2 linked regions of the Homo sapiens genome follow. Each later gene encodes a partner of the first gene's protein in a complex. Each region holds a gene or a part of one and is shown in the gene's direction. Other genes may lie near its edges. The genes, in order: SAV1 and STK3.

Evidence for each region.
Region 2: the proteins of SAV1 (region 1) and STK3 are in contact, whole or in part, in a crystal structure (PDB 6AO5), measured with the Homo sapiens proteins. Residues at the interface, in NP_068590.1 of Homo sapiens: Tyr311, Ala312, Arg313, Ala314, Pro315, Asp319, Trp324, Glu325, Phe327, Gln328, Leu329, Leu332, Asp333, Gln336, Leu339, Lys340, Leu342, Phe343, Glu346, Leu347, Ile350, Val351, Met353, Tyr354, Ala356, Tyr357, Arg358, Ala360, Leu361, Leu362; in NP_006272.2 of Homo sapiens: Trp429, Lys430, Val431, Pro432, Gln433, Gly435, Phe437, Phe439, Leu440 (codon at 2,826), Lys441 (codon at 2,829), Asn442 (codon at 2,832), Leu443 (codon at 2,835), Ser444 (codon at 2,838), Leu445 (codon at 2,841), Leu448 (codon at 2,850), Gln449 (codon at 2,853), Arg451 (codon at 2,859), Leu452 (codon at 2,862), Leu455 (codon at 2,871), Asp456 (codon at 2,874), Met458 (codon at 2,880), Met459 (codon at 2,883), Glu462 (codon at 2,892), Ile463 (codon at 2,895), Leu466 (codon at 2,904), Arg467 (codon at 2,907), Arg469 (codon at 2,913), Tyr470 (codon at 2,916), Ala472 (codon at 2,922), Lys473 (codon at 2,925).

The regions. Positions count from the first base shown.
Region 1 is NC_000014.9:50,644,159-50,651,455, reverse strand, and holds part of SAV1 (protein salvador homolog 1), read left to right. Parts: intron 1-2,066; coding exon of another isoform or gene 2,067-2,149; intron 2,150-6,441; coding exon 6,442-6,712; intron 6,713-7,297. UniProt on the Homo sapiens protein: Regulator of STK3/MST2 and STK4/MST1 in the Hippo signaling pathway which plays a pivotal role in organ size control and tumor suppression by restricting proliferation and promoting apoptosis.
Region 2 is NC_000008.11:98,453,973-98,458,825, reverse strand, and holds the end of STK3 (serine/threonine-protein kinase 3), read left to right. Parts: intron 1-1,532; coding exon of another isoform or gene 1,533-1,535; exon of another isoform or gene 1,536-2,587; coding exon of another isoform or gene 2,588-2,641; exon of another isoform or gene 2,642-2,825; coding exon 2,826-2,984; 3' UTR 2,985-4,193; downstream 4,194-4,853. UniProt on the Homo sapiens protein: Stress-activated, pro-apoptotic kinase which, following caspase-cleavage, enters the nucleus and induces chromatin condensation followed by internucleosomal DNA fragmentation.

The DNA.
Region 1 (7,297 bases):
AAATCAAAATGATAAAACAGAATGCATTTAGAAAATTAATTCTACCCCTGTCCTCTTCCACCCCATTTCCTTCCTCCCCCTGTAAATACCCAATTTTATTAATTTTTGTTACATATTTCATTGCAACACTTTATGAAAATAGATACAAATTACATATATATGTAAAATATGTATTCATATTATTCTCTTTCATATGTATTGTGTTAGGTTTCTGTAGCTGTAAAACACATTACTTCCAAACTCATTGGCATAAAACAATAAACATTTATTATCTCAGTTTCTGTGGTTCAGGATTTTGGAAGCGGCTTAGCCAGGTCATTCTGACTCAGGATCTCTCATGAAGTTGGAGTTCACACACGTCAGCTGGGGCTGCAGTTATCCGAAGCTTCGCTCTGGCTGAAAGATCCATTTCTTTCTTTCTTTTTTTTTTTTTGGAGACAGAGTCTCTCTCTGTTGCTCAGGCTTGAGTGCAGTGGCGCGCTCTCGGCTCACTGCATCCTCCATCTCCCAGGTTCAAGTGTTCTCCTGCCTCAGCCTCCTGAGTAGCTGGGACTACAGGCATGTGCCGCCACGCCCAGCTAATTATTTGTAATTTTAGTAGAGATAGGGTTTTGTCGTCTTGGCCCGGCTGGTCTCAAACTTCTGACATCAGGTGGTCCATCCACCTTGGCCTCCCAAAGTGCTGGGATTACAGGTGTGAGCCACTGCGCCCGGCCAAAAGATCCGCTTCTAAGTTCACTCACAAGGCTGTTAACAGGAGGCTTCAGTTCTGGCTGAAGGCCTCAATTCCTCACTCATGGGCTTCTCATGATATGGTATCTGGTTTCCCCCAGGGTGAGTGATGAGAGAGCAAGTACACTTGACCAAGGCAGAAGCTGCACGGTCTTTTATATCCTAATCTCAGAAGTCACACACCATCCTTTCTGCCATAAACTATTGGTCACACAGACAAGGGTGTGAATCCCAGGAGGACAGGGATAATTGGGGCCCAGGTTCACCTTACTGGCTGGCTACTACATATATGTATATATGGTGGTGTACTGTCCAGACTCTTTTTTCACATAATACATCCCGAATATTATTCCAGGGCAATAAATAGAAATCATCTTCATTCATGTTTACAGCTATATAATATAGTACTCTGTTCTGTGCGTGTAATAGTGTAATCATCCAGTTTGCTATTATTGGACATTTGGTTGATTTCTAGCCTTTTGCAACTATAGATGTTGCTGCAGTGACTAGCCTTATGCATATGCATTGTATGTTGTATTTAAATAAAAACAGTTTCTTAAACCACATGCCAATAACCCGTATTTATCCATACACTTACATATCCTTCTTTAGAATCTGAGTTTGAATTGAAGCATTTACCTTAATTTTAAAGTTTCTTCTAAATTACCTTTTGTCACTGGGGTCTGTTTCATTTGCCTTTCTTTAAAGGTAAACTTGATGTTTTCATTTTGCCTTAGTTTCCAGCCAACTGTAATTTTAAAAGCTCTTCAAAGTCAGCTGGGAACTTTTGACTAGTAGATGTTTTGCTCTGGCATGGTACTCCTTCACACCTCAATGGTCACCCAGTCTTTCTTATTTTGACCATTCTGAGATATTCTAAATTTGGCAGTTAGGGCCTTGGGTTGACTGGCAGTCTTCTGTTAACACACTAACTTTTCATTTAAATGCTGTATCCTTGTACCTTTCAGGCACAGGGATTCAAATTTATGTTAAAATTTTGTCTGGGGTGCAACTGTTACAAATAATGAGGATTAATAATAGTATGAACCACATACTGTCTTCCTAGGACTGTGTTAGAACATGCACCAGCAATGATAATACATCTGTATTTGCTGCCTAGTGGCTAACAGATTTACTCTCTTGATTATAAAAAACACCTTCGTTTCAGAACTAGTAAAATATGGGAGTGAAAGAGGCAAAATAAGTCCAAAAATCAAGGAAAATATTTATGCAGTTTCTGTCTCATTGATGTGTGTATCTCCTCCACTAATACTACACTGTCTTTATTACTGCAGCTTATTTATTTAACACTTACTATGTGCTTTATTCTGTAGACACTGTTCTAGAGACTGGAGATGTATCTGTGAACAAAACAAAGATTCCTGTCCTAAGAATCTTCTTTGTGGGATTCTTGTAGGTAAATAAACAAACTAAAATTACATAAGTTAAAAGGTTAAAGTGCTTTTTAAAAAAGTAAAACGGTAAGTAGAAGCTCAGCAGATGTAGACTGCCATAGTAAGAATAAGCTTCATTGAAACATTTGAGAAGAGGCTTGAAGAGGGTGAGAGTGAGCCAAGAGAATATCTGAAGGAAGAATCTTCTAGGGAGAATAAACAGCCAGTACCTGCCGTGTTTGAGAACAGCATCCAGGAGGTGAGTGTAGCTGGAACAGAGTGAGCTAAGGGTAAAAAAAATAGCAGCTTAAGTCAGAGAAGAAATGGAGGTCTGATCATCAGTAGGGCTTCATATTGAAAGTTATACAAGAGATAACTTTCATCAAGTAATGAGACAGTAAAGATAACTTGTACCAAATATCAAGGAAAAAACTTACTGAGCTCAGCCAGTATCACCAACCTGTGGTGAACCAAATAAATACTTCTTGTTTTAAGCCACTGAGTTTCGGGGTGATTTGTTATACATATGCTATTAGTATTCTTTTTTTTTTTGAGACGGAGTCTTGCTCCGTCGCCCAGGCTGGAGTGCAGTGGCGCAATCTCGGCTCACTGCAACCTCCGCCTCCCGGGTTCACGCCATTCTCCTGTCTCAGCCTCCCAAGTAGCTGGGACTACAGGCGCCCGCCACCACGCCCAGCTAATTTTTGTATTTTTAGTAGAGATGGGGTTTCACCGTGTTAGCCAGGATGGTCTCGATCTCCTGACCTCATGATCTGCCCGCCTCGGCCTCCCAAAGTGCTGGGATTACAGGCATGAGCCACCGCACCCGGCCAACTATTAGTATTCTTGTGTGAGAATAAAATTATGCAGCCAGATTATTCTTTTAAAAAGTATAGTAAATTTAACTTTTTTCAAGTTACACAGTTCTGAGTATTAACATATGTATAGATTTCATGTAATGCCTGTGTAATGAGAATACAGAACATTTCAAACACCCTCTAAAATTCCCTTAGGTTGTCCTCTTATAGTCAACTCCTGTCCCTCACCTCCAGTTCCTAGCAATCACTGTTTTCTGTCCTAGTAGTTTTGTGTTTGGAAGAATCTCATAAAAATGGAACTGTACAATTTGTAGCCACTTGAGACTGGCTGCTTTCCCTCAGCATGATACTTCTGAGATTCATCTTTGAGATTCTTGCATGTACCAATAATTAGTTCCATTTTATTCCTGAGTAGATTTCACTGTACAGTTGCACCACAGTTTGTTTATCCATTCTGTTAAAGGACATGTGTGTCATTTCCACTTTGGGGCAAATATGAATACAGTCATTGTAAATATCCACAAATGGGATTTTGTGTGAAGATGACTTCTCATTTCTCTAGGGTAAATATTTGGGAATGGGATTGCTGTAGCATATGAAAAGCATATGTTTAACTTTATAAGAAATTGCTAAGCTGTTCTCCAGAGTGACTGTAGCATTTTGCATCCACACCAGCAGTGTATGGGCATTCCAATTGTTCTGTATCCATGTAAGCACTTGCATTGTCAGGTTTTGTTTGGTTTTTTGGCCATTTTCATAGACGTGTATTGTCATTTCATTATGGTTTTAATTTGCATTTCTCTCACGGCTAATTATGATCCTGAGCATTTTTTCACGTGCTATTTACCATCAATATGTTGTCTTCGGTGAAGTGCCTGTTAAAAATTCTTACCCCCCTTTTTTTTAACTGGGTCGTTTTGTTTTCTTCTTCTGTTTTTGTTTTGAGAGAAGGGGTTTCACTCTGTTGCACAGACCGGAGTGCCGTAGCTGTTCACAGGCATGATGATAGTGTGCTACAGACCTGAAATCTTGGGCTCAAGTAACCCTCCTACTCAGCTTCCTGAGTAGGTTGAACTACAGGTGCGTGTCACTGCAGCAGGCTCAGGGTTGTTTTCTTAATGTTGAGTTTTGAGAATTCTTTGTATATTCTAGGTCAGAGTTCTTTGGCTAATAATGTGATTTGCAAACATTTTCTCCCTGTTTACAGCTTGATTTTCTTTCTCTTAGTGTCCTTCACAAGCGTTTTTAATCTTGACAGAGTTCAATTTAATCAGTATTTTTTCTTTATGAGTTGAACTTTCAGCATCATGGTAAAAAAAAGTACTCTTTGTCTAAACTAAACTCATGAAAATTTATTCTATTTTTTTCTTGTAAAAGCGTTATAGTTTTAAATTTAGATATATGATCTATTTTTAGTTAATTTGTATGTAAGGTGGCAGGTATAGGTTGTGATTAGGTTTTTTGCATATGGATGTCCAGTTGTTGCAACATCATTTGTTGGAAAAACCTTTCCCCGCTATTGCCCTTTCACCTTTATAAAAAAATCAGTTGACCATGTCTGTGTGGGTGTTCTTCTGGATTCTCTGTTTGGTTCCATTTATCTATTTGTCTGTTCTTCTGACAATACCATACTGTCTTGATTAATGTAGCTTTATAGTAAGCCTTAAAAATCAGGTAGTGTGAGTCCTTCAACTTTATCCCTTTTTCAAAAAAATTGTTTTGGCTACTCTAGTTCTCTTTTGCCTTTCAGTATACATTTTAAAATCTGTTTAATAACTATCTGTATCTACAAAAACTCCATGGAATTTTTTTTTTTTTTTTTTTTTGAGACAGAGTTTCACTCTCGTCGCCCAGGATGGAGTGTAATGGCGCGTTCTCAGCTCACTGCAACCTCTGCTCTCGGGTTCAAGCAATTCTCCTGCCTCAGCCTCCCGAGTAGCTGGGATTACAGGCGTCCGCCACCACGCCCGGCTAATTTTTGTGTTTTTAATAGAGACGGGGTTTCACCATGTTGGTCAGGCTGGTCTCAAACTCCGGACCTCAGGTGATCCGCTCACCTTGGCCTCCCAAAGTGCTCGGATTACAGGCGTGAGCCACTGCGCTCGGCCGGAATTTTTATTGGAATGACAGTAGTCTCGCTTTATCCATGGTTTTGCTTTCCACAGTTTCAGTTACCTCTGCAACTGCAGTCTGAAAATTGATGAATATGGTACAAGATCTTTCAAGAGAGAGGGAGAGAGATTACATTCACCCAGTTTTTATTATAATAATTGTTCAATTTTATTTTTGTTAATCCCTTACTGTGCCTAATTTATAAGTTAAACTTCATCATAGATACGTATGTATAGGAAAATACACAGCATACACAGGGTTAGGTACTATCTGCAGTTTCAGGCATCTACGGGAGGTCTTGGAATGGATCCCCCATGGATAAGGGGGGGACTCCTATAAAGATAAAGATAATTTCAGGAGAATTGACATCTTAACTTTATGTCGAATCTTCCAATCCGTTAATGTGATAGGTTTTTTATTTCTTTCATCAGTGTTTTGTAGTTTTTAGCATATTGGTCCTGCACAATTCTTTGGAGCTATTATAAATTATATTATCTCAATAACTTTTGTTTCCAGTTGTTGTTTGTTAATATATAAATATTAATTTTTGTATGGTGACCTTAACCCTGCTACCTTAAGCTTACTTAATAATTCTAGGGCACAGCCAGATTACTTTTAAGAATTTATAACCGGGAATGGTTTTACAAGTTCATTTTTACATTTTTTTTAAAGCTGAAATGTCAAATCTTTAATCAGGGGAAATTTTCTTTTTCCCACTTTTCTTTTGGCAGTATACATACTTAAGTAGCTTTACTGCCACAGGTTGATTATCCCTTACCCCAAAATGCTTAGGACCAGAAGTGTTTGAGATTTTGGATTTTTTTTTTTATTTTGGAATATTTGTATGTACATAATAAGATATCTTGGGAAGAGATCCCAAATCTGAACATGAAATTCATTTATATTTCATATATACCTTCTACACATAGCCTGAAGGTAATTTTACATAATATTTTAAATAATTTTGTGCATAAAACAAAGTTTTGACTGAATTTTGACTATGACTCATCACATAAGGTCAGGTGTGGAATTTTCTGCTTGTGGCAACATGTCAGCTCTCGAAGTTTTGGATTTTGGAGCATTTCAAATTTCAGATTTTTGGATTAGGGATGCTCAACCTGTTGTTAAGTGTTTGTATGGCCTGTTGATGGAAGCATCAGCCAAAAAACCCTCTACTAATTTCAAAGTCTAGTTCCTCCCCCTTTTTATAATTCCTTAATAGTAATACCGACTAGTTTTATGAAAACCATCATAATGGGCATAATCATGAATTTAAATAGAAGAGTACAATCAGGATAGTTAATGTTGTGACTTTGCTAGCTGGCACATTTTTTGCATTGAATAATTGTTCTGTTTCTTCTCTATCATTTTCTCTTTCCCCGTAGGTATTGGGAGAGTTGCTGCTACATCTTTAGGAAATTTGACTAACCATGGTTCTGAAGATTTACCCCTTCCTCCTGGCTGGTCTGTGGACTGGACAATGAGAGGGAGAAAATATTATATAGATCATAACACAAATACAACTCACTGGAGCCATCCTCTTGAGCGAGAAGGACTTCCTCCTGGATGGGAACGAGTTGAGTCATCCGAATTTGGAACCTATTATGTAGATCACACAAATAAGAAGGCCCAATACAGGCATCCCTGTGCTCCTAGGTACAGTATCAACTTTATTTTCAACTTTTTGTTTCGGGATTGTCTAATGTTAGGTTTTGAACTGATATTTTCATCTAAGAGAATAGCATCCTAAAGCTTGAGATTTGAAAGCCTTATATTTCAAAATTTACATTTTTCTCTGGACATACATTTAGTAATAAATGACTTTAATAAGTTAAAAAAATACTTTTCTCTTTAAAAAAACCTCAAAAACAAGATCATTGTTCTTATGATCAGATTCTGCTGTAGTAATGCCAGAATGTTTTTGTTATAGGTGTCCAGAAAATTAAATAATTAAAGCTTCTGCCTTCTTACACTTAAATTTTTACAAATAATAACAGACCTACCCCCTAAGTCAGAATGTACAATTGAATTATAACATTTTGCTGTTTATTCTATTTCAGACATGATTGTATGTTCTGTTTCTTGCTATTACTAGACAAGAAAGTGAAAATTGGGACTGAACAAAACATCCCATTTCTGTTTAATAAATATAGCCAGTAATTCTTTGTGCTGTTTTGATTGATACTGGGCTGGGTAGATCTGCTTTGTTGCCAGACTTTTAGCCCTGTGCTGCCTGATAGC
Region 2 (4,853 bases), on another chromosome or scaffold:
CATGGTGGAAGGTGAAGGTGAAGCAAGCCTGGACCTTCTCACGTGGTGAGAGGGGAGAGCAGAGTGAGATTGAAGAAGGAAGGGCCCCTTATAAAACCATCAGATATTGTGAGAACTCACTCACTATCACTAGAACAGCATGGAGGGAAACTGCCCCCATGATCCAATCACCTCCCACCAGGTGTCTCCCTAGACACATGGGGATTATGAGGATTACAATTCATGATGAGATTTGGGTGGGGACACAGCCAAACCATATCAGTAAAGTCTTAGGTTACAAAATCAGTGGTACAAATCAGTAGCACTATTATATACCAACAGTGACCAAGCTGAGAATCAAATCAAGAACTCAACCCCTTTTACAATAGCTGTAAAATAATTAATAATAATAATAGTAATAGCAATAAATTACCTAGGAATATACTTAGCCAAGAAGGTAAAAGATCCCTACAGGGAGAACTACAAAACACTGTTGAAAGAAATCATGCATGACACAAATGGAAATACATCCCATGCTCATGGATTGGAAGAATCAATATTATGAAAAAGACCTTACTGCCCAAAGCAGTCTACAGATTCAGTGCATTTCCTATCAAAATACCAACATCATTTTTCACAAAATTAGAAAAAAATCCTAAAAGTCACATAGAACCAAAAAAGAGCATATGTAAATACATGTGTGTGTGCACATGTGTGTGTGTGTGTGTGTGTATATGTGTGTGTATGTGATATTGAGACAAAGTTTTATCACTTAAAGAACTAAGATTTAGGTACTTCATTAATTTACTTACATGAACACCTAATTCCTTAATAATGTTAGATAATGTTTCTCTAATATCACAGACCTGTTTTTCACAAATTTTACGCATTGATAATATAAAAATCTGTTAAAGGAAGAAAATTTTTCTTCTAAGTAGCTTCTTTTTCTGAGTTCAGTCTATTACTGCAATACAATATTTATAAACCTATTGGCAGTTTGCCCCAGTAAAAGTAGTACAAGATATTTACAGGAATATCTTAATTCAGAATTAAAGTAATGATAATTGTTTGCTTTATATAATATGTTAGTTCTTCTGATCTTAGAGTAACCCACTCCTTTGGGTCATATATTCTTATTCATATTTATCTATCTACGTTTACGTCATGTTATTTGCAGTATAGTAGGATAGTTTCTTGGTGTATGTACAGTCTCTAAAGTCTAAGTATTTTTTGGAATATCTAGGGACATGAAACTCATGCATAAAAATCAATTATAAAATAGTACATGATTTAGAATCAAATACTAAATTGTGTTGTTTAAATTATGAGTGTTACATAGAAATTTAGAAATGGGAAAGATTAACATGGGCTGAAATAGAGATGATGTTGAAGAACACAGAAGTGGAACTGGATCCTACATAGACATAGTTGGGCATGTCTTTCTTGGGAAATGTGGTTGTGTGGTATACATTGGCCTTTCAATGTGGCCATTACCGATGTGTACAGTTCAAAGTTTGGAGTTTCCCTGTTTGTCTTATTCTGTATCTCCACAGTGATTTGAACAGCACTGAGCATGTAACAGATGCAAGATCACTACTTGGATTAAAAATCAATGAAGAAAGTGTATAATACTACATATGATATATAAATGTATGTTTTATGGCATAATATTAAAAGCTAGGTTCTTTCATGACATATGACTACAAAATAACAGGGCTGATTATTAATATACATACCAGAACTTCTTATGCACCGAAGTGAGTGGCATTCACCTTCAAAGTCATCATCATGGAAGCCTGCATACTCTTCTCCATAACACTGTCATTTCTCAAAATATTTTTGGAACTCCTTTTTTGAATTTCCTTCAGAGAGTCTATGACTCATTCTTTTCAGTATCCTCAGAGTCTTTTTCAGCTAAGAGTGAATTTGGTTTTTGGAAGCAGAAGTCACGATAGGGCCAGGGATGGCGAGTAAAAGGATCTGCTGAGAAATGCTACTTTGGATGACTATAAGTAATGAGTATTTTTCCTAGCTTGACTCATAAAATAACCAAAGGCAATTATCTTCTTAAAACAAAAAGTAAGTTGCAAGTTTTATCATTTTAAAACCAAGCCTGAGCTGGGTGCAGTGGCACATCCCAGCTACTGAGGAGGTCAAGGCAGGAGGATCTCTTGAGCCCAGAAGTTTGAGACCTTGTGTCAAAAAAAATAAGAAGAAGAAGAAGAAGAAAAGAAAACCAAATCTGGATTACTCTTACATAACTGTCCTACTCCAGAATTGATCATGGCTTCCTGCTTTTGGGGCCCCACCAGGCCTATTCAGCCTTACTTCCCGCCCCCTACCACAGTCATCTTCTTTATTAAGCATTTAGTAAAATGGAGGATAGAATGGTTAATTTAACCTTTATTCAGTCTTGTCACATTCTTGAGTGATCTCTGCAAGTGTTCATGATTATTGTAGCACTCAGTAGCTGGCAAAGATGTAAAAAGTTAGAGTGAATATACCTGGAACATATTCTGAAAATCTGTTTGTTGGCAGTGGTGGATTTGTCTTTGTACCTTTTTACAAATTCCATCAGCGTATTTTTCTCATTTGCCCTTTATTAAAGGCAGAGGATCGGATTGCTTCATTGCAGATTACTGGAGGTTCTTGCAAGATATGACCTCTGAGTTCTTCAAGGAAGAAATTCCTGTTTTAATTGTTGAACTATACTTCAAAGATGATGTAAAGAATTTGCTGAAATATTTATGTTAAAACTCATTAGACATTAAAGTCTAATTTCATTGTATTGATTGTGGATAATGTGGATAATTTCATTGTATTGGTATCTTTCTTTCTGTATCTAGTTGAAAAATCTAAGTTTAGAAGAACTACAGATGCGGTTAAAAGCACTGGACCCCATGATGGAACGGGAGATAGAAGAACTTCGTCAGAGATACACTGCGAAAAGACAGCCCATTCTGGATGCGATGGATGCAAAGAAAAGAAGGCAGCAAAACTTTTGAGTCTAATTTCCTCTCTGTTTTTAACTATTCTGGAGACCAAGAAACCACTAGGAATTGAAGGAATATTTGGATATTTTTAATCCTAAGATTTTGCCCTACAATTAGGCAGAGGTCAAAAAGTGACAATGGTACATGCCCAGGTAAATTCCCAAAAGGCAGAATTGACAGTTGTATCTGCTGTGCATTCACTCTAAGATGAGGAGAACAAAAGAAGTGTATTCTCTTGTTCTGTCAGCTGCATACCAGTAATAAAACTGTTATGAAATGGATTTTCAAGGTCTCTAAACCTTGAAAATCCAAAGCTATTGTTGCATTGTACAGCACTGAAGGGCTTTATGTTACAATATTCTTTATTCCTATCTAGTATACTAGGCTATTTATTGTATCCCCTTAGGTAAACTTATTTATTTATGCTATTTTGCTTTGTTTCATTTTTTAAGGACAAGATCAGGATAGCTTTGGTGAAGGTAGGGTCATATTAATATGATGATAATGTGCAACCAATTTATACTTTCTGCAGGGAGCTATGGGGTACATTCCTTGATTTCCAGGATAGTTTTTCAAATAGGAAAGCAATAATGGCAGTAGTTCTCAAATGGGCTAGGCCTTTTTTATATTGAAGCAATAATTCCATTTTTACCCTTTGAAATTTTGTTTTTTTGATTTTTGATGTTTGGTACAAATAGAACTATATATATTTAGGTAAAATAGATCTATCGTGTTTAAAACCAAAGAAATCAATGGAACCCTTGCACAAAAAAGTGTGATAAATATTTTTAAATAAAAACTTAATACAAATGTAATTTGTTAATATTGTTTCATGTTTTATGTGTAGATCTAATAGCTGAACTGATTCAAACTGTAATAAGCTCATCAATTTCATTTCTATGAAAATGTGCTCTGTTGTCACAGGATGTTTCTGTTGATTTTATTCATTTCCTGGGAATTGGTAAACATCATGTTCCTGATGATAACCCAGTAGCAAAAACATTTGTACTGAGTGGTACAAGCCTTGGGGACTGAAAAAAAAAAGATTAAAACCATTAAAAAGAAACTCATTTTTACGCTGAATGAACATTTATATGATTGCATTGGGACCAGTCATTTCCTAAGCTACATATGGCCATCTTGACAGTGTTTTTTCTTTTGTGTGTTTAATTATTATGTGTAAATCATAAAGACAAATAAATTTCACTGTGCCACCCAGCATATTTCGTTTCTGTATCTTTGTTAAAACTCATGACCTGGACTCTGCATTTTCCAAGCAAGGGACGTATATTAGTTAGGACAGGCTAGATTATGCAGTGCTGACAACCCTCACCCTTCAGCGGCTTCACATAATACAGGTTATTCCTCACTCTTGCTCCAGGCCCACCCCAGTTTGGCAGGGCGCCCTGCTCCTATCATCCACACCCAGGGACCTGCTGACAGGGCCTCAACCATCTGAGATATCTGTGGTCACCACAATAAGGAGAAGGGGAGCTGGAGAGTTTCATACTAGCTCCAGCCAGTAGTGATACATGTCTGGTTGGCCACAACCCAGTATTCAGAATTAGTCACATGGACACTCCTAACTTCGAGGGAGTCAGGAAGAGTAGCATCACCACGTAGCTGGAGGGGAGAGAACAGGAAAAGCTGATGAGTTCACTAATGTCTGTCACAGAAGGTATATTGTCTCTGGAAAGCTTCCATTCCTTTTTAAAAATGGTATTTGTACCCTAGGTAATGCCTCAAAGTGTCATTTGTCTCTACCCTGTTGAGCCCTTACAAATAATAATAAATTGTATAATTGGATACAAATTATAAGATTATAAAAAGAACGATAAGTATGAAACATACAAAGATTATTAAAAAATGAAGAACTGAATT